2 separate regions of the Homo sapiens genome follow, and region 2 is linked to region 1. Evidence: fine-mapped expression QTL. A gene starts in region 1. The other region holds a variant in brackets. All regions are shown on one strand. Distances are between the middles of the regions.

The links.
Region 2: its variant is fine-mapped to the expression of SCN9A in lung (TOPMed, PIP above 0.99).

The regions. Positions count from the first base shown.
Region 1 is chr2:166,368,066-166,383,590 of GRCh38, reverse strand. It overlaps SCN9A (sodium voltage-gated channel alpha subunit 9), which reads left to right and starts at 7,647. Exons shown (of 27, transcript NM_001365536.1): 1 at 7,647-7,894.
Region 2 is chr2:166,295,466-166,310,990 of GRCh38, reverse strand. SCN9A (sodium voltage-gated channel alpha subunit 9) reads left to right here. Exons shown (of 27, transcript NM_001365536.1): 3 at 3,917-4,035; 4 at 4,392-4,481; 5 at 5,071-5,199; 6 at 6,662-6,753; 7 at 7,689-7,901. It overlaps SCN1A-AS1 (SCN1A and SCN9A antisense RNA 1), which reads right to left. Exons shown (of 12, transcript NR_110260.1): 10 at 14,862-14,968; 11 at 12,150-12,301; 12 at 9,207-10,060. Among named protein-coding and RNA genes, the nearest start is that of SCN9A, 73 kb to the left of the region's middle. The variant A/G (reference allele first, on the strand shown) is at 7,472.

The DNA of each region.
Region 1 (15,525 bases):
AATATAATGCCTGGTATATGTTACAACTTCAATAACTGTTATTAATCTCACTGGCAAGAAACAAAATTTCAAGAGTTAAATCTATGACTTTTCCGAATATTTTATGAAATCATGCTGATCATTTTTATACAGTATTATTTTTACATGGTATTACCATTCAACTTGTCTTCTCCACATTTCACATGACAATACATTTTCAGAATATCAACAGGTTTTTTTGAGTGTAAATAAATTCAGACTTTGCTAAAACATGCCTCTGGTTTAAAATTTAACATATCTTATTAGACACTACGCAAATATATTCTGCTTTTTAAAATTTTTATTTTTTTTTATTCTTCGTCAGTACCATGAAAATTTGAGTCTATTTACTGAATTGCTTAAAATACGGCAACGTAAAAGTAGTAAATGCAATTAGGCTGAAAGTAAAAGAAATGTTAGAAAAAAAATCTTGCAGCAATGGTAATCAATAATTTGAAAATTTTGATTTAAAAGATAAACTCTAACTCAGCAGTCCCCAATCTTTTTGGCATAGGGACCAGTTTCCTAGAAGACCATTTTTTTCACAGACAGAGGTGGGAGATGGTTTTGTGATGATTCAAGTGCATTATATTTATTGTGTACTTTATTTCTATTATTATTACGTTGTAATATATAATGAAATAAATACACAACTCACCATAATGTAGAATCAGTGGGAGCCCTGAGCTTGTTTTCCTGCAACTAGAAGGTCCCATCTGGGGGTGATGGGAGACAGTGAGAGATCGTCAAGCATCAGATTTTCACAAGGAGCACACAACCTAGACCCCTTACATGCACAGTTCACAATAGGGTTCGCGCTCCTATGAGAATCTAATGCTGCCACTGATCTGACAGGAGGCAGAGCTCAGGTGGTAATACAAGCCATGGGAAGTAGCTGTAAATACACATGAAGCTTTGCTCACTGGCCTGCAGCTCACCTCTTGCTGTGTGGCCTGGTTCCTGCTGTGGACTCCTGCTCTGACTGATTATTACTTTTATGATAAAAACTTGCAGTGTGAGTATCTTTAAGAAACTTAGTATTTAGAATGTGGATTTCTATAAATAGCAAACTAGTCTTTTACAGCTGCATTGAAGACCCTTGGGCCATTAGGTCTCTGTAGACCTCCCTGGCCTCACTTCTCTCTAAAGCCCCTTTAAAATCTTCAGAACTCTTGGTCCACAAACTGATTCTATCCCCATCATTGCTTTAAAACCTACTAACCTGGAAAGAATCAGCTATCACCACATCTTAGACTACACATTCAAATTTGCCAATACTCCTTCTTAAGGTAATCAGAACAACAAGAAAAACACCATTATTTTCAAACTCCATTTCATAGTACATAATTAAACTTTCAATTTAGTAAAGATAATGGAATAAATAAATTTAAATAGCTGTTATCTCCTTTAGAGTAACAGCTTGGGAAGTTATATCTTGTATCATTAGCGATGGGTTTGCTGAAATATTTTTAAATGTCTCTTTTGGAACTATCTTGAGGACCTATTTATGTCTTTTTTAAAATTAATTTTCTTTTCTTTTCTTTTTTCCTTTTTTTTGAAACAGCATCTCAGTCTGTCGCCCAAGCTGGAGTACAGTGACAAGATCAGAGCTCACTGCAGCCTTGACTTCCCAGGCTCAACTGATCTTCCCACCTCAGCCTCCCAAGTAGCTGGGACCACAGGTGCACACCACCGTCTCTGGCTAATTTTTTATTTATTTCTTTGAGAGATGGGGTTTCCCTATGTTGCCCCAGCAGGTCTTGAACTCCTGGACTCAAGCAATCTTCCTGCCTCAGCATCCGAAAGTACTGGGATTACAGGCATAAGCCACTGCACCTGGCCATATATATCTTTGAGGGAAGAAAAATTTCTGATCCTTGAGAATTAACTTAATAAATGTAATACATGTATGTTAAATGAATATATTGAAATATTTATTTAAAGTTACAAAAGATCACAGCTACCTATAAATTATTATAACTGTTTAACAAATGTTGCATTAATATTTTATTGTTTCAAATACTATTAATGACATATGTATTCATATAGGAAAATAAAAGTCTGGAACAATAGCAGTCAAGCTGTTAAAACAGGTTGTGAATTAACTTTGTTGTTATAGGGATCATTAGTTTCTATTTTGAATGTGTATATATATTCCTTAACTACTATTCCGAGTGTTGCCTTTACAATACATTGAATTTTCATTTCTGATATTGTATTTTCCATATGTAGAAGTTCCATTTTTGTGTGTTATATCTTATATTTCTCTCCTCATCATATTCAGATTTTTCTTTACTGTCTTAAGTATACATAGCCAACTTAATATTACAAAATTTAATGTCCTAATTTGTTAATTCCATTATCTTTGTCATTTCTGGGTCTGTTTTTGTTGATTGACTTTTCTGCGGGCTCTAGCTCATATTTTCCTTCTTCTTTGCATGCCTGCTCATTATTTTTGATTGGATGCCAGTCAATGTGAATTTTACGTTGTTAGGTCCTTTGAGACGTGTTGGATTTTACTCTGGCTAACATATAAGCAAACTGAAATCACCTGGGTCCTTTTAAGCCTCACTTTTAAGCTTTGTTAGGATAAATCCAGAGCAACGTTAGTTAAAGTTAATTCAGCCCCACTGCTAAGATAAGACCCTTCTGCAGAGTCTACCCAATATCTCCTGTGTTTTGAGGTCTTTTCACTTTGACTGGGGAGGATAAAATATTACTATCCCTGTGTGAGGTCCAAGAATTTTTAACCTGCTACTTAAGATTACAGTCATGTCAGTCATGTGCCAGATAACACTTCAGTCAAGGACAGACTGCATATATGATGGTGGTCCCACAGATTATAATACTGTATTTTTACTGTAACTTTTCTATGTTTAGGTATGATTAGACACAAAAATACCACTGTGTTACAATTGTCTCAGTACAGTAACATGTTGTACAGGTTTATAGCCTAGAAGCAATAGGCTATACCATAAAGACTAAGTATGTAGTAGACTATACCATCTAGGTTTGTGTAAGTACTGTCTCTATGATGTTAAAATTGCCTAGTGACACATTTCTCGGTACATATCTCCATTGTTAGGCAATGCATGACTGTAGTTCTTTCTCTGGCTTAGGGTATTTTTGTTTTCACACAATTGCAGAATGCTGTCAAGCAAAAACTTGAGGTCTCTTTCTACAGATCTCTGGTATACTCTCTGTTCAGCTCCCTTGTCTTAGGTGTCCTGTCCCAAATAAACAAATTCTAGCTCCCTCAGCCTATCAAACTCTTATTTTCTGGCTCTTCATGTTTCCATCTTCCTGAGCTGTGGTTTAGAAACTTTGTGTAGTATGCAGAGACAATCACAGCCTCACTTTCTTTCTCTTCTCTAGGGATCACTGTCTTATAGATAATGTTGCCCAATGACTGAAAACTAGTGTTTCATATATTTTGTCCCCTTATCTAATGGAAGACTTCTACAAGGGAATGTCGATAACAATAGTTTTGATCAAAAATAACTCCACAGAAAGCACATTATCAGCAAAACCATTGTTAGGGTAAGGGACCCATCAGTGGACTATGACACTGGGGAAAATTCTTCAGGAATAAGTAATCAATTAATATACTTACTAAGCATCTACTACATGCAAGACAAAACATTTATTTTTCTTCACATCAGTTTTCTGGCCAAAAAAATCCAGACCACGTCAAATTAGACGAGCAAACACTCAGATGCCAATACATTTAGGAAACCTCTTTTCTTCAGTTGTTTCATTAAGCATCATTTGCCCATCTCATCACTCCAATCTATGTCTGATAATCTTCATTGTATATTCTATTTCTTTTTAGTTATAATTTGAAGTTCTACTTTTGAATCCTACTTTTTAGCTATGTATACACAAAACTTGTAACTTTATTCTTCTATTTTCACAACAGAATAATTGTTTTTTCTTACTTTGTAATATTGCCGTGCAGCCAATATTAGAAGGTAAAAGTATTTTTCTAATCCTATTTAATTAGAGAAAAACAAACTCTTTCAGTATTGTATTAATTTTATTGCCTTAATATTACTGTCTATTTTTTGTTCTTCCAGAAACTTCTACAGTTTTGAAAATTGCAGTGGCAATTGTGGAAAATACAGAAGTGTGGATATCCATTTATTTCTCACTAAGGGAAATAAAATTCTTATTCCTATTCTGGTATGGATTGTATGATGTTAGTTAATTTCCATGACTCAACATTTCCACATTTTTCTATCTAAGTTACGGAAGGTCAGTTGTAAATATGATTAGGAACTTATTGGTTATTGGCTTTTTCAACCAGACAGGCTTTGTCTGGTTCCCTTAATTCAAGCCTACCCTTTAAATTTTAAACGTACCATCTACTTATGTCTACATCTGACGCTGTCATTTAGTGTTTAATGAACTCTCAAGGCTGTGCAGTGTAGTATTTAATAAGAAATTTGGAAAGATACTTTTTCTGGGTTTAAACCAAGATAAAATTTCTAGGGCTGCCAAAAGAGCAAGAAAAACACAAACAGCTAATGTTCTGTAGACTAGGAATGGCACATAAAAGAAATGGAAAGGAAATAAATAGTTGGAACATGAAAGAAAATTGGGAAAATAATGAATAATATACCTAATGCTTTGCCTATGAGCTCACAGGGAAAATCCTGCAAGGGATCCCTCAGTCAGACCAAGAGGATTTTATTTTTGGTTTTATCATTTTCCAGGATTTTATGTTTGAAGATCTCTAACAAGAACCTAGATATATTGAGAATAGTAAGTTCTTGTTAATGGATGCTTAAAGTGGAATATATAATATGTTATATATTATATACAACATATGTATTATACATAACATATATTATAACATAATATAGTAATATAATATATAACATGTTATAATATATAGGTTATATATAATGTATAATGCATTATATATTCCACTCTAAGAATGTATCTAACATATGTGTTATTCTAGATATAACAGCAAAGGCATAATCTATAAGAGACATAATTGCTAAGGTGAACTGCATTAAAATTAAAAACTTCTGCTCTGCAAAAACGGACAACAAGCCAGTGTTAGATAAATATTTGCAAAAGACACATCTGACAAATGACTGTTAACCAAAATATACAAATAAAGCTTAAAACTCAACAACAAGAAAAGAAATAACCCAATGAAAAAAATGGGCCATATACCTTAACAGACCAAAGAAGATGCACATATTGCAAATAAGCATATAAAAAGGTGATCCACATCATATATCACAGGGGAAATGCAAATCAAATAACACTTATGGTATCAACAATGGGCATGAGATACCACCACATATGTATTGGAATAACCAAAATCCAGAACACTGATGATATCAAGTTCTGGCCAAGGATGTGAGGCAACAGGAACTCTCATGTATTGCTGGTGGGAATGCAAAATGCTCCAGCCACTTTGAGGACAGTGTAGCAGTTTCTTTAAAAACTAAACATACTCTCACCATATGATCCAGCAATTGTGCTCCTTGATGTTCACCCAAAGGACTTGAAAACATGTCCACACAGTAACCTTCACAAAGATGTTTATAGAGGCTTTACGCATAATTGCTAAAACTTGGAAGCAAACAAGATGTCCTTCAGTAGGTGAATGAATAAACTATGGTACCACCAGTCAATGGAATATTATTCAGCACTGTAAAGAAATGAGCTATCAAGCTATGAAAAGCCATGGAGGAAAACTAAAAGCATATTGCTAAGTGAAAGGAGTCAATCTGAAAGGGCTATATTCTGTATTATTGCAACTATAGGATATCCTGGAGAAGGCAAAACTATAAAGACAGTAAAATGATCAGTACTTGCCAGGGGTTGAAATGGGAGATGAATAAGTGGAACACAGAGAATTCAGGAGAGAACTGAAATTACTCTGTAAGATACTGTAATGGTGGATACATGTCATTATATATTTGCCTAACCCCATAGAATGGACAACACCATGAGCTAACCCTAAATGTGAACTACAGACCTTGGGAGATAATGAAACCTCAAAGTAAGTTCATTAATTTTAACAAATGTTTCATTCTGGTGGGGAATGTTGATAATGGGGGAGGCTATTCTTGTGTGGGAGTAGCGGTTATGTGGGAAATCTCTGTACCCTCCCTTCAGTTTTGCTGTGAACCTAAAATTGCTCTAAAAATAAAATTTTAAAAATAAAAGAATGTGGCATTGCTTGCATCTAATAAAAAAGACCATTATTCCTATTGCAGTTGAACTCTTCTTCCTATATCTACCACCAATCAGGGAAGAGAAGGCGATTTGTCCAGGATATGGCACTGAGAATTATCACAAGTGAGCTAGTTCACCTTCATTGCACAGTCTCAGTCACTGAAGTTTCCTTCCTTCAATAGCACATCTTACAAGTCAAGAATGTAAGGTCCAAAGCCCCAGGACAAATCTCAGAAGCAAAGAAAGCAGCAGGGAAAAGTAGACCCTGGGATTTGATTTCCTTCCGGTTATCTCTAAGCATCATTTCCATGATAGAAGGTGTGGAAGCAAATAATAAAAGTGCCCGTCACTAGTGTTTATCCTGCAAAGTGGTCTGCCCTTTTGAGAGGCACCCTGCCCTATGGCCATCCTTTGATTTCTTCCCTTGGTGGAAATTTCCTGTTTCTCTTTGAGAAAGATAATTCAACCCTGTTTCCATTGTTCTTCCTCCCAGGCTGCTGTAGGAAAGCGCACGCACACACTCCACACAAAATGAATTTTTAAAAAATTTATTTTCACAGTCGCTCCTACCAGCTCTGAAATTCAGAACCCATATGACTGATGGCATATTCAGATAATCGGGTCCCAGGTCTGGAAAAGCAGCCTTTTCCCCACGTTTCTTTCCCCACCTAGGACCTCCTCTGATTCTTCACTGCATCTTCGAAAGAAAATGTATTATTTGCTTGCCTGGAAGACGCTGCAATTCAATTGATTTTATATATACATATATATAAAGAAAACAGAAAACATAGCCTAGATACCGGTCTTGAGCGTCACCGCCCCACTCGCGGTTGTGAGCAAAGCCCTACGGAAGAAACCAATTCCCAGCCTAGACTCTTCAGAGCCCAAGGTCGGGGAGGCGCTGGCCTGGCGGTGTTGTCTGGCTCCCCAGCCACTGCCCCAGACTCAGGGCTTTGCCATTGGTCCCCACCTCCTCTGCTCCGGAGTTTTTCTCCAGCTCCCCACCAAGCCACACAAAGTGACTTCTCGGAAACATTAGCCGATTCTGCTGAGCAGGAAGGGAGGAAAGGGATGATGGGGGCGGGGGTGAGATAAGGGAAGGGCTCTTCTGGCTGCTGGACACACACACACACACACTCAAACACACACACGCCCCACCCAATGGGTGGCCGTGGATGGCAGGTCGTGCAACCCCCTCCTCCGCCTTCTATTAGCGCATGGTGCAGAGGCTACAGCGTCGCCACCACCGCGCCCCTAGCTGGGTCCCCGCCCTGCGCCGCCCGCAGGAGTGGAGAGAGGGAGGGAGGGAGGGAGCAAGGGGTGGGGACCCGGGCGCGCTGGGAGGAGTGGAGGAGGCAAAGCGGCGCAGCTGCCCTCGGGGAGGCGGGGCTGCTACCTCCACGGGCGCGCCCTGGCAGGAGGGGCGCAGTCTGCTTGCAGGCGGTCGCCAGCGCTCCAGCGGCGGCTGTCGGCTTTCCAATTCCGCCAGCTCGGCTGAGGCTGGGCTAGCCTGGGTGCCAGTGGCTGCTAGCGGCAGGCGTCCCCTGAGCAACAGGAGCCCAGAGAAAAAGAAGCAGCCCTGAGAGAGCGCCGGGGAAGGAGAGGCCCGCGCCCTCTCCTGGAGCCAGATTCTGCAGGTGCACTGGGTGGGGATGATCGGCGGGCTAGGTTGCAAGTAAGTGCCTTTTCTTTTGCTGCTTCTGTGGGGAGGGGAGGAGAAGCCCTCGGTCTTTCGCCCGTGCTCGCCTCAACCGCCACACCCACCTGTGTCTATTTTCACATCTCGGTTCTGGAACCCTGTATTACGCCACCTGGAAAGAAGAGAGGGGAGAAGCTTGACCGGGTGGTTCCAGCAATGGGAGGAAGAAGGGCTGGAAGCGTAGTTATTTCGATAGCTGGGCAGCTCCTGTGCGGTTTTGACTCTGTGGGTTTGCTGCCAGGTTCTGAAACTGTGGAAAGGAAGGGTAGCAATGCCTGGTGGTTTACTGTCTTTTATTTCTGTTTACGCTAGCAGAGTTGTTAGATGGACTTCAATTCAAGGGGCAGCTCACATTTTTTACGAGCAAAAAGCATGTGCTGTATTTCCCATCTGCAAAGCTGAGCGTGCAGAACCAGCTTAGCAGATACAACCTGTGGGGACAGAAAAGAACCCCGCACCCCTTAAGAGCACACAAACACAAATAATTGACAGGACAGCTCTGCCCCTATTTCTCAGCGCAGATTATTTATTTATTTTTTCGAATAAGCACTTTATAGTGAAATTCAGAAAAGATGCAGAATCCTTTTAACTTTTTATCGAATTCAACTTGGGAAACTCATTTACTTTTAGGAAAAAATGGATATTTTCGTGCCTTATATTCAAGACAAAAATCAGAACAAGAAACTAGAAACATTAATGCCAGTTTTTGTGATTATAGTAAACATTTCACTCATTATTTTAGTTTTTTTTTTTTAAGTTGGAGCGTTCATAGATTATATCTACTCTGATGTTAAGAGCAATTTACATGAGAAACTTAGGGGGGTTTTTAAGAAGCTAGTGTCAGTAAGATAAAAGCCAAATCAAAGTAAGCTTTCAAGGAAGTGATAGCTTGTCAGTTACTGAATAGGAAGTCAGTGTTGGGAAGTTCAGTTCTTTTCAGAAACATATTTATTATTCTTTTCTATTTCTTCTTCCCTGTAGACAAGATAAAGATTTTCTTTCTCTTTCTTTCCTTGTTATTTAAATATATTTTATAATTTTTGCTTTAACATCAATATAAACCTATTTTATATAAACTGCAAACCAAATCCAATTATTAAACTGTTCATTTTATTGCAAATTCTTCAGATTTTTTCCACTATTTAAAAAAGTTTATAATTTTTTCTTATAATTATGGTGAGATTTTTTAAAAATTATTGATTAGTTTGAAAGCTAGTCTTATCTGATCCCTGTGTCGCAAATTTTCATGATTGTTAGACTAGCTTATCAACAACAAAACTCTAGACAGAATATGGTATTTGATGTAAAGAAGAATGTGCCCTCTATTTAGGCAACTGATAGTTTGGCTTAAGACAAGTTTTTTAAAATTTTGTAGAGGTTTAAAAGGAGGTTTCCTTAAGTAAGCCACTGTGCAGTTGTGGGACTCAGTGATGTGTTTTTACAGTGACTGGATATATGATATGCCTTGATTCCTATGGTGCAGGGCTAGGCTCACAGAGTACCTGATGCTTCTACAGAAGAAAGATGAGTCAGGTCTGGCTCTCTGCCAAAAGCATCTTGGGCCTCCTTTCCCCTAGGGCCTGCATATAATCATGGGAGCCCTTCTGTGGTAATGCTTCTATGTTTTTACTACCTGTTGCTGTGCTGAGTTTCAGAAGCAAAATAGATAAACAAATAAATAAATTCAGAAGAGCAATCAGTAGGGTTCTATTTATTTAATATAATCAACCCACTTTCTCTGTGGCAAGGAAAAAAGTAGAATTTTTCATTTTACATGAATAATAAAATCTATTTTTTATCCAATTTCTATTCCTATTAGTTATGCAAAAGAGTGTGAAGTGCTAGAAGGATTTATATGGTACTTTTCTAAGACAAGTCATGATCTTGTAAAAGAGCTTAAAGTTTATTGATGTAAATGGAACATTCTAGATGTCATAATGATAATAATTTATGACTTTCCCTAAAACTCTGTCTCAGATTCTTTCCTCCCATCTTCATTATCTGAATAAATGCCTTCACCATCCAAGTATTGAAATCACCTTTGATTGCTCTCTTCCTTATTACTCCATTTCAGCCCTTTCCAGCCTGTAAGTAGATCTATCAATCTTATCTCCCAAACTTATTTCTATTTCATCATACGTCTCAGATGCCTCTCATTCACCCTCTTTTCTGTATCTACACGGCCACCAAATTAGTTCAGGTCATCATCATAATTTACTTGGAATCCTGCCACAGCCTCCATATCAATCTCTCCACTTCTGTAATTTTCTCCCCTGCAATTCATTCTCTATACAAAGCAATACCATCCTGTCTCCCCTAACAAACATTGGCTCACAACTGCATTTAAAAAAAAAAAAAAAGAGGAAGAAGAAGAGGAGAAGAAGAAATAAACATGGCAACACAGAGACCAATTAGCAACAACAGTAAATGCCTTTCCTCAGCATATGGTTTACTCTCTGTTCTGTCCCTTCTCTCCAACCTCACCAGAACCTATTCTCTTCTCATTAAGGTGCTCCTGCCCAGGTCGTGGCTAAAACACATGAAACAATAGCACTCTTTAAGGCCTTTTCAAATGCTGTTCCCAATGCCTGAACTCTATGCGTGCTTACTCCTTCTTAAACTTTAAATCTCAACTCGAGGTTTTTTTGTTTTGGAAAGATCATTTTTGATCATCTTGTTAAAAGTAGGTTGTCCCGTGTTGGTCTTGATGTTGGAACCTTGTTTCTTTCATACTGCTTGTTACAGCATGCAGGTATTTTGTGAATTTGCATACCAAATACTCCAAGGGAACCCAGACTATGTCTTCATTGTTGACTTAGCTTCCAGAATAGTGCCTGGCATCAAGTAGTAGGGGGTTCGTAGATATTTATATAAATAATAAAATACAAAAATATGGATTCTTCCAGAATAAAGCATATTAACCCTGGAAACATGAATTTTGTGATTCTATTTTTTATTTGTCAAGCATTTAGTATTTTTACAATATCATGGTATGATATTGAGGAGGTAAAATTAAAATATCCTGAGATGTATTCTCTCTTTTATCAGTGTAGGTGATAATGTACTTAAAGGTAAGTAATTTGTAATGCATTCTTAGAAAGGCAGTGACCACAAATGTATTAAAATATATTTTAAGAAAAAATTGGATTGCATAAACTAATATGGTTATAAGTGACTCCAAATCTAAAATGATAACCTTGTTAGGTTTAAATCTGTATCATCTAACAGAAATTTGAGGGCCAGTCAATAGTCACTGACTATGAATTTAAAATATTCTTTTAAAATAAACATAGATGCTTATGTGAGCTCAGTTGATAGAAATGTAGTCAGATGAGGCGGAGGCCATAAGTTAGGTTTCCACACGGTCTAAATTGATGTTTGCCCCAGGTACAAAGGGCACATTATCCAAATATTTGAAGCATTCTCTAAGGAAGGTTCAGAGAGGCAATGTGGGCTTATCCATGAAGACCCATCACTGTTATTAGAGTGGAAGTAAGGACTGCAAACTTCATGCTCATAAATGATTGTGTCATTTTCATACTAGAATTTTACCACACACACACTCACACTCACACACACACACACACACACTTTGTATGGTGATTTGCCTCCCCCCTTTATTTTTGCAGACTATGCTTAAAGATATTAAACAAACAACTAGTTTTGCTATTAACATTTGGTTGAAAATTTAGCTTTCAATTAGGTGACAAACTGATTAATGATTTTTTTATGTAGCAAATGGCCAGCCACAGATTTTTGGTAAATAATTTGGTTACCACATTACATCTTGAAGGACTAAATTATTTCACTAATTGTGAGCAGGGATTTTTAAAAATTTGCTCTGAAGAGGACATATTGTGGATGTTGTATTGGAGGGCATCTGTGTACTAATTGAAGATGGTCCTTCATATTACACATCACAAATTAGCTAATTTATTCTTTACAGAAGTATTATGACATCTTCCTTTAGAACTGTGTAGAGTTAGATTACCACTTGAGAGGCAAGGTCATATTAAAATAGATATTATAAAATTGTATAAAAATATTTTATATGAGGATTTATGAGAGCATCCAGAGAATGTGGGTAGAATACTTTTGTGGAATATGAGATAACAATTTTGGTGTCCTGCCATTCTAAAAAATGAAATTTCTTCATTGAAGGTATCACTTACCCTTTCCTCTGCCTTGCTGGAAGGAAATGGCTTTAGGCAAAAGAAAAAGCCATCAGCTCTTGGCAGCTAAAGGTGGAATGAAGTTTGGAGGAATGAAACCCTTCTGGGTGGTGAGGAAAAATGCCAGGCCATGATAAAGTGGGGAAGGAAGAGGGGAATGCCTTGAACAGTGCCAGTAAGCATAATCTGCCACAGACAAGTTTGAATTGACATATGTAGAACTGAATTATTCTATATCTTTTTAGTTCTATAGAGAAAACCGTTCTTTCCACGTCTCTTTTTAAAATAACAACTTACTGTAAGCAAAAAATATGTTGTTGTTGTTTCTTTAACACAGGAGATGAACTATCTTTAGATTTTTTAAAGTGATATAACATGGAGCCAAAAATGCCATATATTACTGTTGAAACCTAACGTTACTTTAACTGTAATTTCCTTGCTATTCATTTTATGATTTCCTCTTGTTATGTCAAGTGTTAGAGAGACTGCTATTACTGATCATAAATTTCTTTAAAATGTCTCCTTGGATTTTTTACAAAGCTTTCTGAATCATTTATCAAAATACAATAAAGCTCTAATTGCACCTAGGATTGTTCACTTGGAAATTTAGAAAGAGTGTGTACATTTACAATTAAGTTAGCATCCTGCCCTGCAATGAATGCCCTTTTTCTTTTTTTTTTTCCTTCTTCTCTCCTACATCTCATCTTCCAAATGTTTGATATGTACGCCAGTAAGGCAAATTTTACTCCACTTTTAGGTCAAACTATTAGTACAAATAATTGGAAAATTGAGCCTCTAAAGAAAGATAAATAAGATTAGAAGCATGCATTAAAATATAAGTATTAAAAACATTCCCATAAGATTTTTAATAAAAATTTTATGTGCTATATGCACACCTAGACTCCCTGTATTATCTGATTTTTAAAGATTCTTTTTTTTTTTTATTTTTTATTTTTTTGAGACGGAGTCTCGCTCTGTCGCCCAGGCTGGAGTGCAGTGGCGCGATCTTGGCTCACTGCAAGCTCCGCGTCCTGGGTTCACACCATTCTCCTGCCTCAGCCTCCGAGTAGCTGGGACTACAGGCGCCTACCACCGTGCCCGGCTAATGTTTTTGTATTTTTAGTAGAGACGGAGTTTCACCATGTTAGCCAGGATGGTCTCAATCTCCTGACCTAGTGATCCGCCCGCCTCGACCTCCCAAAGTGCTGGGATTACAAGCATGAGCCACCGCGCTCAGCCCATTATCTAATGATGATGATGATGATTATTATTATTATTATTATTATTATTATTATTATTATTATTATTTTAACTGGGGGTAATTTCACTGGATGTGGTATCTGTCAACTTTTACTAGTTGCTCCTACACTATATGTTTTTAAATCCAATGTAATTATTTTAAAAATATGTCATCTTCTTGAGAGTCTATACTTTAGAATTTGAAAAAAGAAGTAAATGTAGATATTCAAATCCATGCAGATGAGTAAAACAGGGAAAAATGAGAAAAATGTTTCATGATAATAAAATATTATGTCAGGCACAGCTGGTCACCCCTGCAATCCCATCACTTTGGGAGGCCGAGGCTGGAGGATTGCTTGATCCAGGAGTTCTAGATCAGCCTGGGCAATAAAAGGAAAATCTGTTTCTACAAAAAAATTAAAATTTATATTTCATATATTGATTTAAGCTCTACTAAATGACTATTCTTTCAAGTCTAATAGACAGTGTATCTTTTAGGGCTCAGAGTAAAGATAATTTATTGAGGACATTTTGAATAGGATGAATTAAATGCTTTATTGGTAAGTGATGCCTTTATCTGAGTGATTCCTTCTAGGTAAATATTATGGGACCAATCTTTGTAAATGATCTTTGCATGGAACAAAATATTATAAAGTTGAAGTGATGAATTTGTTTCCCTCTTAACAAAATATGTATTCTTGTTACCCCATTTACAAACTTGGCTCATGGTAATTCAGGTAGGAAAAAGGGAAGTGGCCTACTCAGGGATCAACTGGGAATAAGGTTCTTATAATCCCATGAGATCAGCTGACAGACTTTTAGGAATGAACACTTGTAGAACAGCTAGGCAGAGAAGTGCCTTTCAAAATTTATATTACATCTCTACTATATTTCAGACTGTAAAATATTTTTATAAAGTGTTAAAAGCACAGATAAATAAATTTGAGTTCAAATTAGTATAGTGAAAGGAAGTTTATTTTTCCCAAATATTTCCTTTACTCAGTATGTGGTCTTAGTCAAATATTAATTTCTTAAATATTGCTTTCCTGTAAATTAGTAGTATTTACTTCTAAGGACTATATTATATGTTATATATAGAGTATATTATATATTAGGAGATATATATGTATATACATCGTAATTTGTTTTTTCCAAAACAGCCACTTTAGTGTCTTACACATGATAAGTAGATATGAGTAGATGTTCAATAATGGTATCTAGGCATTTAATAACTTAGAATATTATAATCAAAATGCATTCTTTTTTTTTTTTTTGAGACCGAGTTTCACTCTTGTTGCCCAGGCTGGAGTGCAATGGTACGATCTTGGCTCACTGCAACTTCCGCCTCCCAGGTTCAAGCAATTCTCCTGCCTCAGCCTCCCGAGTAGCCGGGATTACAGGCATGAGCCACCTCGCCTGGCTAATTTTGTATTTTTAGTAGAGATAGGATTTCACCAGGTTGGGCAGGCTGGTCTTGAACTCCTGAGTTCAGGTGATCTGCCCGCCTAGGCCCCCCAAAGTGCTGGGATTATAGGCGTGAGCCACCATGCCCAGCCTCTTTTTTTTTTTTTTTTTAATTAAGTTTCAAGGTACATTTGCAGGATGTGCAGGTTTTTTACATAGGTAAAGGTGTGCCGGTTTCACTCTGTTGCCCAGGCTGGAGTGCAGTGGTACGATGTTGGCTCGCTGCAACCTCTGCCTCCCAGATTCAAGTGATTCTCCTGCCTCAGCCTCCCAAGTAGCTGGGATTACAGGCATGTACCACCATGCCCGGCTAATTTTGCAGTTTTAGTAGAGATGGGGTTTCACCATGTTGGCCAGACTAGTCTCGAATTCCTGACCTCAGGTGATCTGCCCACCTCGGCCTTCTAAAGTGTTGGGATTACAGGTGTAAGCCACTGTGCAAGGCCAGCAATTATGCTGTTACAAGGAAAAATACATACGGAAAAGTTTACATCTTGCTAACATTACTGATAATATTAATGTAACAGTCTTATGTATGGACGTCTCCTTAATGCTAACTGAGCAGTTTGTTAAGGGATTTTCATATGCTCCGTTTAAATCCTCATGACCACCATTTGAGGTGAGAACACTAAGGCTCAGAAATTACCTAACCTTTCCAAAGACTCACAATGGTTACTAAACTTGAATAACATACACATTTCTTTTATAGGAAAGAAATCTTATATATTCCAA
Region 2 (15,525 bases), 73 kb after region 1:
GATAGTTTACTGAGAATGATGATTTCCAATTGCATCCATGTCCCTACAAAGGACGTGAACTCATCATTTTTTATGGCTGCATAGTATTCCATGGTGTATATGAGCCACATTTTCTTAATCCAGTCTATCATTGTTGGACATTTGGGTTGGTTCCAAGTGTTTGCTATTGTGAATAATGCCACAATAAACATATGTGTGCATGTGTCTTTATAGCAGCATGATTTATAGTCCTTTGGGTATATACCCAGTAATGGGATGGCTGGGTCAAATGGTATTTCTAGTTCTAGATCCCTGAGGAATCGCCACACTGACTTCCACAATGGTTGAACTAGTTTACCACCAACAGTGTAAAAGTGTTCCTATTTCTCCACATCCTCTCCAGCACCTGTTGTTTCCTGACTTTTTAATGATTGCCATTCTAACTGGTGTGAGATGGTATCTCATTGTGGTTTTGATTTGCATTTCTCTGATGGCCAGTGATGATGAGCATTTTTTCATGTGTTTTTTGGCTGCATAAATGTCTTCTTTTGAGAAGTGTCTGTTCATGTCCTTTGCCCACTTTTTGATGGGGTTGTTTGTTTTTTTCTTGTAAATTTGTTTGAGTTCATTGTAGATTCTGGATATTAGCCTTTTGTCAGATGAGTAGGTTGCGAAAATTGTCTCCCATTTTGTAGGTTGCATGTTCACTCTGATGGTAGTTTATTTTGCTGTGCAGAAGCTCTTTAGTTTAATTAGATCCCATTTGTCAATTTTGTCTTTTGTTGCCATTGCTTTTGGTGTTTTAGACATGAAGTCCTTGCCCATGCCTATGTCCTGAATGGTAATGCCTGGGTTTTCTTCTAGGGTTTTTATGGTTTTAGGTCTAATGTTTAAGTCTTTAATCCATCTTGAATTGATTTTTGTATAAGGTGTAAGGAAGGGATCCAGTTTCAGCTTTCTACATATGGCTAGCCAGTTTTCCCAGCACCATTTGTTAAATAGGGAATCCTTTCCCCATTGCTTGTTTTTCTCAGGTTTGTCAAAGATCAGATAGTTGTAGATATGTGGCGTTATTTCTGAGGGCTCTGTTCTGTTCCATTGATCTATATCTCTGTTTTGGTACCAGTACCATGCTGTTTGGGTTACTGTAGCCTTGTAGTGTAGTTTGAAGTCAGGTAGCGTGATGCCTCCAGCTTTGTTCTTTTGGCTTAGGATTGACTTGGCGATGCGGGCTCTTTTTTGGTTCCATATGAACTTTAAAGTAGTTTTTTCCAGTTCTGTGAAGAAAGTCATTGGTAGCTTGATGGGGATGGCATTGAATCTGTAAATTACCTTGGGCAGTATGGCCATTTTCACGATATTGATTCTTCCTACACATGAGCATGGAATGTTCTTCCATTTGTTTGTATCCTCTTTTATTTCCTTGAGCAGTGGTTTGTAGTTCTCCTCGAAGAGGTCCTTCACATCCCTTGTAAGTTGGATTCCTAGGTATTTTATTCTCTTTGAAGCAATTGTGAAATTTAGTATAATGTTTAGTATAACATAGTATACATTGTTTAGTATAATTGTTTAGCATAACATTTTTGGACATGACACAGTGATCTGCCAAATTTTATAATCATACCTATTTTTTCCTGCTAATAATTAACTCTCATGTGTATGCAGACCCAAAAATCACTTAAAAGTTTTTAATGAGAATGAAAATTGCTAATTTCAATTTTAAAATACCAACAATTCTTTTTATTAAAATTTCAAGTATAAGGTAACTTGATCTTGCCAATACTATGTAGTATGTTGTGATTTTTCATGTTAGCTCAGATGACCTCCGGTTTATAAAGTCTCCCTGATAATTTTGACAGTCATGTGACCCTGTTCCCTCTTCACTCTCATTCTTCCCCCTTTATATTTTTCTGTATGATATCTGTCACATCTTGCCTTATATTAGTTACTTTCTTCTTTTCATTTTTCTAGGAAGTTCCTTGAATACAAAACTCATGCCTTATTTTTGTTCAAACTCCTTTTCATTACCTGTTATGATATAGTTTCTGACTATACATGTATTAGTCTTTTTTTTTTTTTTTTTTTTGAGACAGAGTCTCCCTCTGTTGCCCAGGCTGGAGTGCCGTGGCGCGATTTTGGCTCACTGCAAGCTCCGCCTCCCGGGTTCACGCCATTCTCCCACCTCAGCCTCCAGGGTAGCTGGGACTACAGGTACCCGCCACCACACCTGGCTAATTTTGTTTTTGTATTTTTAGTAGAGACGGGGATTCACCGTGTTAGCCAGGATGGTCTCGATCTCCTGACGTTGTGTTCTGCCCACCTTGGCCTCCCAAAGTGCTGGGAACACAGGCGTGAGCCACCACGCCCGGCCGTATTAGTCCATTTTTACACTGCTATAAAGAACTACCTGAGACTGGGTAATTTATAAAGAAAAGAGATTTAATTTACTCACTGTTCTGAATGGCAGGGGAGGCCTCAGAAAACTTACAATCATGGTCGAAGGCAAAGGGGAAGCAAGGCACATCTTAACATGGTGCAGGAGAGGGAGAAAGAGGAGGGAAATGCCGCACTTTTAAACCCATCAGATCTCATGAGAACTCACTCACTCACTATCATGAGAACAGCACTGGGGAAACCGCTCCCATGATCCAATCACTTACCACCAGGTCCCTCCCCTGAGACGTGGGGATTACAATTCAAAATGAGATTTGGGCGGGGACACAGAGCCAAACCATGTCAATACAATTGCAGAAAGAATGGATGAATAATTTTTTAAAAATACAGTCTACTGAGATTTAAGACAAAAAGGATTGTACTTGAGGACTAGGTATTAATTTTAAAATAATTTTCCATGTAAAAGTGAATTTTACATTAAATTGTATTTAGATAGAACTGATACAGTGAAAGGGAGCAGGAAAATAAAAGGACACCTGAAAACAATAGACTCTGATTTGTTTTCTTGAGGGAACGCTGCCGCATACAAATAAAAAGCCTGACTCACAGACTTACCTCCTGAATACGGTGAGAAATGCTTATTGCCAGAAACCCACTGATAACCCTATATAAAATTTAGAAAGTCAGTGTCTTTCAGCTAACACAAGTCATCTTCCTGCCAACCGGAGAAAAATAAGGCTGGGATTTGAACTTTGTCTTTCTGATTTCTAAGCCAATGCTTTAGGTTGCTTTAATATTTTGTTGTTACTGCTGGTTGTTTTTATTTCTTAACTGAATACTAAAGCTATGGAAAAGGACACTTATGGAATGGCTACAATAACATTTCAAGAATGTTTGCTTCTATTCATATCGTTTTTTAAATTACCGTGGTTAGTAAGTGAGGAATCCTCTTAATTTAAGTCCCTTTTAAAAGCTAATATTAGTATTATAACTAAAATAAAGAAATTGAACTCAGTGATTGGAAGGATTCTTCCAACTCTGACGTTCCTTCAACTTAGGAAAATATTTTTTGAAATAACTCATATTTTGGAACATGTGCTGCTAACCATAACAATTGCCAGCAAGTATTAAAATTCTCAAGGTTTTATGATAAAAATATTAGAGATAGCTAGTTTCTATTTGGCTTTCTTAAAATGCAGTGTAATGGAAGGGAAAGAAGTTGTACTTTAAAATAACTTAACCACAGTTATTGTTACTGGTGAAAGAAAATGAAAAATATGAAATACAGTATTTTGAAAGCTCTAAGCAATACATGCTAACAAATAGCTCAATTTTTAAAGTTACTATGAAGAAGTGGACTTGGAGTTCATTGGCCAAGGTGACATTGATAGATGCGTTGATGACATTGGAACCACATTGCTGGAGTCTGATGGCAGTGTTTCTTCAATATAACACTGCCATGTAGAAAGGTAAACTGCTGATATTGATGTGAAAAATTGATATTTTGGATTCTCAATTTCATCCTTTCTTTTTCCTCCTGCAGACTTTCATAGTATTGAACAAAGGGAAAACAATCTTCCGTTTCAATGCCACACCTGCTTTATATATGCTTTCTCCTTTCAGTCCTCTAAGAAGAATATCTATTAAGATTTTAGTACACTCATATCCTTTTAAAAATGATTACATCCAGTGGCACTTTATGGTGTAATTTTTGCTATTTTATTCAAATATAGATGTTATACCTTTTGCACCTTGAAAGACTCTGGTTTTAGTTTATTAATTTCAGTATTATTAATATAATTTGTCATGGGTCTCAGAGAAGACTGGGAGAGTGGCAATATTAAGATTTTAGGATATGTTACTTTTATTTATTACTCTCTTGTTCAAAGAGACAAAATAGTCTACAAGCTCATTTAGAATTTTTTTCTTAGGAAAAGTTGTAAGCATTTCAACAAGTGTCATCCTCAAATATTTCAAATTCCCACTGTCGTCTCTTTTGTTCCTTGATTCTAAGCTACCTTATTCAGCATGCTCATCATGTGCACTATTCTGACAAACTGCATATTTATGACCATGAATAACCCACCGGACTGGACCAAAAATGTCGAGTAAGTGGGTATAAGTACATTTTAATATAGTTTTGGTATTATCATTTCATCCTTTCCTTTTCCTGCCAGGAAGTTACTGCATTTATGAAGATGGGGAATCTTTACCTTCCCATGTTATATGCTTGCTTTTCTTTTGTTCTTTACCTCCTCTATGATATTAACCTGCTAGATTAGAAAAATTAGATGCTACAGTGTTTTCTCAAAGAATGAACTTGTCAGATGCTCCATCCTGTTCTTAGACATGTTACACATATTTTATTCTTGGGTGTATGTTTTATAATTATATGGGTGTATTTTTAAATGATTGGGTGAATTTTTGATAGAAGCAATGTAGGAAATTTTTAGGCAGATCTGAGACCTATATTCTTAGTTATTTCAAGTACCTCTGCTTTCTGGGAGTGTTTCTGATATTGACATTTTAATATTTTCTGGATAGACCTATTGTAGTTTAATAGGGTGTGTCCATAACCCAACAGCCATCCTCCAATATATGTCTTCCAGTGGTTAATTAGAGAAAATAAGTTATAAAGATTTACATGGTGGTTGTATTCTTTTCACATCTAGTATCCCAATGGAATCTTGTGTTTAGGTACACTTTTACTGGAATATATACTTTTGAATCACTTGTAAAAATCCTTGCAAGAGGCTTCTGTGTAGGAGAATTCACTTTTCTTCGTGACCCGTGGAACTGGCTGGATTTTGTCGTCATTGTTTTTGCGTAAGTACTTTCAGCTTTTTGAAACGGCAAATTTATGAAAATCTCAGGCAGCACAGTGTTCCAATAACAGCAAACCTCTGGGGTCTGATTTTTCCAGCATGGAATGTCTGTATTTAAAGGAAAATGGAAGCTATATGAAAGCTAGTCATTGATAGGCAAATACTAAATTTTTCAAAAAGACTATCTCCCACTCAGAGGTATGTGACATCATTGAGATTGATCATCTTCCTCCATGCTCAGCACTTGGATGGATAGTCTATGCAGTGCCAATTAGGTTTACACTTTTTCCAAGTTCTTGTTTAAAAATGAATAAAACCTATAAGAAGCACACAAAAAACTCAGGCCTTTAAATACAAGTACAGTGCTCTTTATATTACCCTGTATTATTCAATTATTTTATATTTTTGTATTAAAATATAAAAGTATATATTTGTAAAAGAGCTGTCACTGCTTACTAAGCCTAAGATTAATGCATTGTATACACATTATATATACACTCAGTTTATTTTCAAGGAAAATATTACATTACAGTATAATTTTAATTTATTCATAATTGTTACTCTTTTCCCAAATGTATTTATCAGAAAAATGGATTTTTACAATCTCATATCTAGATATTCTATTTTCCGTTAATGACTTTGAATTATCAAAGTAATCCAGGTTCACTGGAGCCACCTAGACAATACAGAAGGGTCTTAAGATTCCTAATATCCGATTCCTTCATCCCTGCCTAACCTCTTTTCCATCAGGCTCCCTCCTTTTGAGGTCACATATGATGGGGCAGTTCCATCTGCTACCTGCTGCTAAGAAAACATTGTGCAAAGAAGACTGCCTCTTCTCATAGGTCTCCTTTTTTTCCTATTGGTACAATTCAAATACTACAAAATTCACAATTTTAAAGTATACAATTCAGTGTTTTTCAGTATATTGACAAACTTGCGCAACATCACCACTACCTAATTAGAGAAGTTTAACAACCCCAAATAGAAACTCTGTACTCATTAGCAGTCACTTCAATTTCCTTCTCTCCCTGGCCCCTTGGAAACCACTCATCTATGTTTTATCTCTATGGATTTGTCTATTTGGATTTTTTTATGAATGGAAATATCAAACAGTATGCAGCCTTTTGTGTCTGACACTTAGCATACTATTTTCAATGTTTTATAAAAAATTAAAAGTCTAAATTACCATAATGTTAAGGGTCCAACAATTGAAACATTTAGTTGTTTACGCATTTAAGTGTATGAATCCAATTTAATAATATATAATATCTGTATTTTGTTTGCATCAAATGAGTCAAATCAATGCTAATTAAATTAAGTTAGTTATGATAGCAAAAAAGACTTGCAGAACTATACATTTAAAATAGAAGCCCCAAACGTAGAAAATACCTTGACTAAAGGCTCAGGTAAGTATCATAGACTCTATCTAAATTCTGAATAATTCTGATTTAATTCTACAGGTATTTAACAGAATTTGTAAACCTAGGCAATGTTTCAGCTCTTCGAACTTTCAGAGTATTGAGAGCTTTGAAAACTATTTCTGTAATCCCAGGTAAGAAGTAATTGGTGTGAAGCATTAGGCCACTCATAACTCCAACTATTTGGGAGTTGTTCTTTGTTCGTTTGTGTGTGTGTCGTCACTGTGTGTATAAACTCCCCTATTACAGATATGTGACAGAGTTTGTGGACCTGGGCAATGTCTCAGCATTGAGAACATTCAGAGTTCTCCGAGCATTGAAAACAATTTCAGTCATTCCAGGTGAGAGTGGGGTTAAACACCAGGGCTGACTTTGATCTTTTGAAAGAAAGACATAAAAAAAACCTTTCTTTATGCAATTTTAATTAAATTTGATTTCTTCTGTTTTCCACAATCATTATCAAAAGTCAACCTTTGAGTTTAATCAATTGCATGGGTCTTTAGGATGAGGATGACTACTTGGCTCACATCTCAACTTGAAATCTTCCCTCCTGTCTGAGGGTTTGTTTTTCCATTTGCTTATACAGGAAGGAAAATTTCAATCCATTTTAATTGATTTTAAAATACTTAGGAAAGAGATCATAAATATCAGCATGGGGATATTGCATGACATTGTTTTTTATTTTTTCTCAGCAAACCATTTCTTTATTGAAAATTATTACAAGGTGTCACTATATGCTGTAATTTGTTTTGGTGCCATTTATAGAGAAGTGGTTTGTTTGACAAACATTAGAACTTACAAAAATTATTTTTAAAGTGGTTTGAATAGCCAAATTGTTCATTTTGACAACCT[A/G]GGTATTCTTTGAGAATATGTTCCTATTTTTAACCATTTGCTGTAATATATAAAAACAAAGTATATATAAAATAGCAAACCCAGAAGGCTTTTTTTGAATTAGGTTACTTAAGGTCATTGATTTGATATAATGCATGACTTTCTAGGAAAGCTTGTGTTTTTTGTTTCGATTCAGAGGCTTTATGTCATTACAAACACTTTTTTCTCCCATTTTCAGGCCTGAAGACAATTGTAGGGGCTTTGATCCAGTCAGTGAAGAAGCTTTCTGATGTCATGATCCTGACTGTGTTCTGTCTGAGTGTGTTTGCACTAATTGGACTACAGCTGTTCATGGGAAACCTGAAGCATAAATGTTTTCGAAATTCACTTGAAAATAATGAAACATTAGAAAGCATAATGAATACCCTAGAGAGTGAAGAAGACTTTAGAAGTAAGAATGTCCTTGCATTTGTTATTAGGTTGAAATAATGCTAAAAACATTGCTCTCTTTTAATAATGAAATGTTGCTTTCATTTTAATCATTTCAAAGCTATTCAAATATATAGAAAGCTGCTACAGTGTGAATTTGGGTCATGTTATATATGATTTTCATAAATCATCCTGGTTCTAAGCTATCTAGCAGTACTGGCAAAAGGAACACAGGATAGTTCCATAATTCCTAATTTCTATATCATAAAAAAGAATTATTTTCTCTAGAGAAATAAATGTAGCCTTGAATTAATAACATTAACCATTACATTTAACAATATAATAGATTATATATTTTATATAATTTTATTATATAGTACATACTTATATTTATTATATATAATGTGACATATTTATTATGATAGATTTTTATACTTAATAGATTGTACTCATAACTATAACATCTTAAAGTTCTATTAATCATATATAATGATAATATTAATTATCAAATATAAAGATAGTATCTGTATCTTGATAGTATTCCTAAAGATTTGTACAAAGCAAAATCATTTGCTCAGCTTTATCAACATCCACTTTGTAACCAATGACGAGTTTCATAGCTGTTTTTAATGGCTTCCTTCAATATAGGCTGATGGCAAGATATCAAAGTTTAGTTCAGTAGAATTATTTCTGTAGGTACCACATGAGATCATCTGTATGCACTCTCAGAAGTCTGCTTAATTCAGAAGTATCAATTAGAGTTTCTTACATAAAGCATGAATTGAATGTTCTCTAAACAATTATCCCCTAGCATGGTGTCTCTCACTGGAACGGTTGATGAATATTGGATGAAGATATGATCAAGATTGTACTTTCTGTCTGACACCTGGAATGTATCTATCTGATGGTGCCCACGTGAATACATAAATCTTAATAGATAATTTGACCCAGGTGTGGTATGGAAGTCACGAAACCTTTCAAATATATGTGCTGTTGCCAAAAGGAAATGAGGGAGGAAAGGTCAGGATTCTCCTTAGATAATAAAAAGTAATATACATCATTTTCTTATTTTACCAAATGTGTCCTTTCTCACTCACTGTGATAAATAAAATCAAATAACACCTAGCCCACATGGTAAAAGACTATAAATAAAATGACAGAAAAAAATAGAAGCCTTAACAAGAAAACTGAAAGTTTTGAAGTAAAATGTTTAGCATATATATTTTTACTACCACCATTTGATGAGGAATTTAGCATATTTTCCCCTTCTTTTTATATTTACCCTCTTTTCCAGTTTCTGATTGTTACAAACATGATTTGAAACTTATTTCCAATGGATGGAGAATTTTATTTCTTAATTTATATGCTGTAAAATTAATATATCTGATGAGTAACTTACATTTAATATTGTAGATTATTTTACCACACTTATTTAAACTTAAGTTTTCTCACTGGGATCTGTCCTTTTATTCTGAGTCTTGCTCCTATTTCTGAGTTTATACTGTGAATGGTTTTCTTAACCTTTGTTAAAAGAAAAATTTTCAACAAATTAAATTTAGCAGCTTATTTCAGCAATGAAATAGTATTTATTGCTGAAATAAGATAATAATAATAATGATTTAGGCAGCACTCAGAACCAAGAGAAGTTCGGAGAGCTCAACTCAGCAACATGAGCAGGAGTATTTATAGACAGAAAAAGGGAGTGACGCACAAAAACAGCTTGATTGCTTATAGCTTGACATTTGCCTTATGTGGACATTGTCTGATAAATCAGCAGGCTGTGGTTGGCTGAAGCTCAGCTGCTGTGATTGGCTGAGACAGCTACTTGTTACAAGAATATACTAATAGATTAGAATGCAATTTGTTTACATATGAAGTTAGATTGCAATTCTCTATGTACACAGACAGCCTTTAATCAAATTTAATTTAATTCATCGCTTTCTGGAATTGCTTCATGTATTTTTTTTTTTTTTTGCTAAAAAATAATACAAAAAAAGAAGAAAAAAAAAGAAACCCCGTCTCTACTAAAAATACAAAAAATTAGCCGGGCATGGTGGTGGGCGCCTGTAATTCCAGCTACTCAGGAGGCTGAGGCAGGAGAATCGCTTGAACTCGGGAGGCAGAGGTTGCGGTGAGCCGAGATCGTGCCATTGCACTCCAGCCTGGGCAACAAGAGCGAAACTGTCTCAAAAATAAATAAATTAATAAATTAATAATAATAATAGAGCCCTTGAGTTATGTGAATTATCTTTATATTATATTTAAACATGAATGCATGACAATTAGCTAATAATGAATCTTATACCACAATCCTGTCTTCCAAATCTGTACATTATTCTTTATTTTCTTCTGAAATGTAGTTTTAGTGAAGAGGTGTTTAAATCAAGTCTGAATTTTGCTTCTGTTTCCTATGTCATAGAAGCCATTTTTGACTGCATAATTGATTCAAACTTTCATTTATTGGTGCGTTTATTACATGGTTTCCCTGAGCTATAGCAATAAATGATAGCCTCAGCCCTTGCTTTCACAGAGCTTATCATCTAGTGGGAATGAAAAAAAATGTTTAAGGGGGAACAGACAAATAAATTAAAAATATCTCAAGTTATAATAAATGCCATGCAAAGGAAGTGAGTCTCAGGTGCTGAGATATCAACTAGATGAGAAGACATCTCTGAGGTGATGGCATTTAAGCTGAGATCTAAAAGATAGTAAGAAGCCATAAAATAGTTTAAGTGTGGGTGTGAGTCTATGTGTGGGGGGTGCTGCTTCAATTAGGAGAAATAGCATGGGCAAAGGTCCTGAATAAAGGGAGGGTATGGGTTTAAAGAATGGAAAAACAGCAGCGTGGTTTGGTAAGAGAAAGGAAGAATGGCAACAGAGAAAGTAGCAGAAAAAATAGGGGTCATATCATGCAGGACATTTCAGCCCATGGGAAGGAGTTTGTATTTTATTTTAAATGCAGTCATTTTTATTGCTGTCTGTCTTGTGCACAACTGATTGAGCAAGGGTAGATGGTAGATGGGAATAAGAAAGGTAAGTTGAAGGTTGCTTCTCTCATCTAGGCAAGAGAAAATAAAGGTTTCATCTAGAGTGATGGCAGAGAAATGAAGAGAAAAAAGATGAGCTCAACATACAAAGTCTGTAGAGCTTGCTGATGGATTAAAGAAGACAGGAAGCATTGAGGATGACTTCTCAGTTTCTGGCTGCAATAACTGGATGGGTGGTGATGGTTAATGAGGAAATGGTGGACACATTTGTAGAGGAAGGTCACTATTAGCTAGCTAAAATTAAAATGAGATGCCTTTGAGATGTCCAGGTGGATATATAATATAGAGAATTGGAGATTTAAGTATAGAAATCAGAGGGCCTGCTGAGTTTGGAGATAAATTCCAGAGCAATCAGCAAAAAGAAAGGACACACACACCTCTACCTCTGAACATCCCTGATATTTTTAAGTAGATAGAGAATGGGAAACCTGGTATTTAAAGCAATCTGGTACCAAGATCTACAACTCTGACATTTAGAATTCAGGTAGAAAAGAGGACCCAGAAAAGAACACAGAGAAAGAGCCGCCAATAAAGTAAGAAGCAAAGATATAAATAATGAAGCCAAGAGAAGAAAACATATTGTAGAAACAGATGTGCTTGTGTAGAATCATGCTGCAAGATCAAGGAGTAAGGATGATGAAGAAAGAAATATGCATTAGGTTAAGTAACAGGGAAGTCATCAGAGAATTTCTTGAGAAAATTTGGGTAAGTGGTAGGGTTCAAGGTAAGAATAAGGTGCATACAGGGGTGAAAAGAAGAGGTCAGAAAGAAGGTAATATGTGTAGACAATTCTCCCAAGAAATTTGGCTATAAAGGGAAGCAGAATAATGGGGCAAATGGCTGGCATTTAAAAAAATATATGGGTTTTTGTATGGATGTTTTGCTAGTGATAATGAATGAGTAGTTATATATGAATCAATTCAGGAGAGAGAGGGAGAAGTCAAGTCCTCGTGAAAGTGAAAGAGTAAAGGGGAGCGACAGCTCCACCGAAACAGGAGGAAAGATAGAAGAGAAGACTGCAGAGTTATCAAAAGATGATTGAGTTCAAACCCAATGGTTTTTATTTCCTCAAAGTATAAGATGGGATCATTGCCTGAGAGTGCAAATGAGGAAGAGAAAATTCTACAGATGATTTGATGAGAATGCATTATATATATGGTCATATCAGGGCATGAGAAATTTAGTGTATTTTGAGTGCAAATTTGATGTTGGAGATTACTTACTTAAAATATAACCATTCACTTGGTTGTGAGAGTTTCTCCACCAACATTCAGCCATTTGGTAGCCAGCATGGAAAAGACAGATGCCAGATTATGTGTAGACTGTGGTTCTGCCAGGTTAGGCACTGATGATAATGAATGCCCATGGATTTAAGCTGTACAAAGAGTGACAAGAACTTGGTTGATAGATCATGAGAAAGTGCTAAGGCAAATGAATTGGCAATATTTAAAAGATCAAGGAATTATAATGGTAAAGGCAATCTACACAGAGAACCTGAGCATAATCTAAAAGCATTTTCTGGTGCCTATAGCAAAGTATTTTCCGAAATGCCTTTCCAAATTCACAATCAAATAAATTAACCCACTGTCTCACCTCCTGCTGAAAAACATACAATTTGTAGATTTCCTTTGGTGTTGCTGTCTACTTTGATGCTCATCAAACACTTTTTTATGCTGCTACAGATGAAAGTGGGGTTCATGTGCACAGTGTGTAGCTAAATGTGCAGTATTATGGAGAAATATACTGTGGTTATATTGGGCTAAAACAGGATATTCTCTTCCTCCTGTTTTTCTAATATTTGACATTTAATAGAGAAAGTTTTGAAAAAACCGCAATATTGGCCTTCACTACTAACAGGAATTTTCCTATCTCCTTCATCTACAGCTGTTTTCTTGTGAGAACTACATTTGCCAGAGTGTAGAGTATCATGTGCAGGCCCTCTGCCCAGTCCTGATCCCCTGCACTAGTTTTCTCAGAGTTGCATTATTTGCCCTTCGTTGGGGATATACTCTTCACTTCCATAGGCCCAAGCCATACACAATTGTCATAAGTTGTCTTTCTGAGCAAGGGCAGAATTACCATTTTTTTTTCTATTTTGCTACATTAATCTTGAAAATTAATTTAAAAACTTCACCCAGAATCTTCATTAGATTTAATATCAATTCTGTATTTTTGTTATATCAATTTTCATTTTCCCCATACGTATTTTAGTGATAAGTTGGCATTTATTTACCCCCACCCACAACCTTTGCCGTTATGCTGCATTCCCTTTTAAAAATAGGTTTATTGAGGAATAATTTATATGCCACAAAATTCCTTTTTTTAAACTGTATAACTCATTTTTTAAACTATACTCAGAGTTGTGCAACGATCGCCACTATCTAATTTAAAATATTTTCATCTTTCCCACCAAGAAACCCAGGGCCCGTTAGTAGTCATTCCCCATTTCCCTTTTCTCCCAGCCCCTGGCAACCACTAATCTACTTTCTGTCCCTAGGGATTTACCCACTCTGTAGATTTAATATACATGGAAGCATATAATATATGGCTTTTTGTATCTGGCTTCTTACACCTAGCATAATGTTTTCAAAATTTATCCATGGTATAGTATGTATCTATGCTTCATTTCTTTTTATTGCTAAATGATATTTCATTGTATGTATATGCTATATTTTGTTTATACATTCATCAGTTGATGGACATTTGGGTTATTTCCGTCTTTTGGTTATAATGCATAATGTTGCTGTAAACATTCATGTACAAGTTTTTGTGGAAATACATTTTCAATTTTCAGTTCTCAGTATATACCTAGTAGTGGGATTACTGAGTCATGGTTCTTTTTTTTTTTTTTTTTTTTTTTTTTTTTTTGAGATGGAGTCTCACTCTGTCGCCTAGGCTGGAATGCAGTGTCGCTATCTCGGCTCACTGTAAGCTCCGCCTCCCGGGTTCACACCATTCTCCTGCCTCAGCCTGCCAAGTAGCTGGGACTACAGGTGCCCGCCACCACGCCCAGCTATTTTTTTGTATTTTTAGTAGAGACGGGGTTTCATTGTGTTAGCCAGGATGGTCTCGATCTCCTGACCTCGTGATCTGCCCGCCTCGACCTCCCAAAGTGCTGGCATTACAGGCGTGAGCCACTGCGCCCGGCCGTGATTCATTCTTTATCTTTCAGAATCATCCCACTTTTGAATATGCACAAGCAATATTTCATTTTTCTTTGCATTCAATTTTTTCCCATTTTTAAAGATGTTAACCTTAAATCTTCTTGAAGCCAACCATCTTAATAATTTAATGTCTAGTTGTTTAGAAATTATTGTAAAGTTTTCTACAAACCTAGAGTGAGCTACCTGCATTGCTTTACCTTTCATCATTCTTATACTGTGTTAAATACAGTAGTATAGCAGTGTGCTAATAGACAGCTCCAGAGCCCATTCATATAATTCAGCTCCTCAGTGGTTGATAAATGTGAACCAGCATTAGTTTAAAGGATAATTCTAAAGTAATCCATCCTTATTAAAATATTTTGGATGTTTATGTATGCAAAATTGCATCTTATCCTCTCCCATACTCACTCTACCAGGCCCATCCTTCCCGAGGTTCAGGAGTGTTTTCAGGAAAGCTTTTCATGCACATTTTCACCTACATTTGCACCTCAAACTGCAAGGCTTTATTGTTTTATCTGTGTCTTCTAAGTAAGATAAAATGATGATGTGTAATTCAATCAATAGTTTTATCTCAAATTGTATAATAGTTTAACTAATTATAATAACTCCTGTTTTTGAGCAGCTAGTACAGAATGTGTGGATCACAGTATCAAGTGGTTTACATGCAATATCCTATTTATACTATTTAACAACTTTATAAAGTAGGTATTCTTATACGTATTTTACAGATGCAGCAGCTAAGGCTTAATGGCTTAAAGATAATTCACTTACTTAAGAAGGGATAGAAGCAACATTCAAATCCAAGAATATCTGATTTCATAGTCTTTCTTCCATGATTACTCCAAAAGTCTCCCAATAATCAGATTTTTTAATTTGACCTGAGTAAAATAGGAAGTCAGGTTCTTATAGTAGAATAGATATTTAAGAGAGATGACAAAAGGTTTTTTAGTCATTTAAACATTTACTATACAAGGATAGATCTGCCCCCAGTCTTAGGAACAAGCCTTAACAGCAAATGACAGAAGAGTTGATGAGAACTTTTACTACTAAAAATTAGCACAAAGAATACCATGAAAGGTGAAACATGGAAAATCTGCATTGATTACATTGTCATCTCCTCAACACCTAGAATTAGTAGGTCCTAAGTAAGTATGGACTGGTGAATGAAAAGTAAGATAATTTTAGAAAACAAATTTTACTCACTTATGTTACTGCCTTACTGAGTCTGCCTCTTCCGGAGTATTGTACCACATAAGGATGTTTTAGTCAATAGCGGACCATATATATAATGGTGATCTCATAAGATTATAATACTGTATTTTTTTACTGTACCTTTTCTGTCTTTAGATACACACTTTCCATTGTATAACAGTTGCCTACAATATTGAGTACAGTAGCCCACTCTACAGGTTTGCAGCCCAGGAGCAATAGGCTA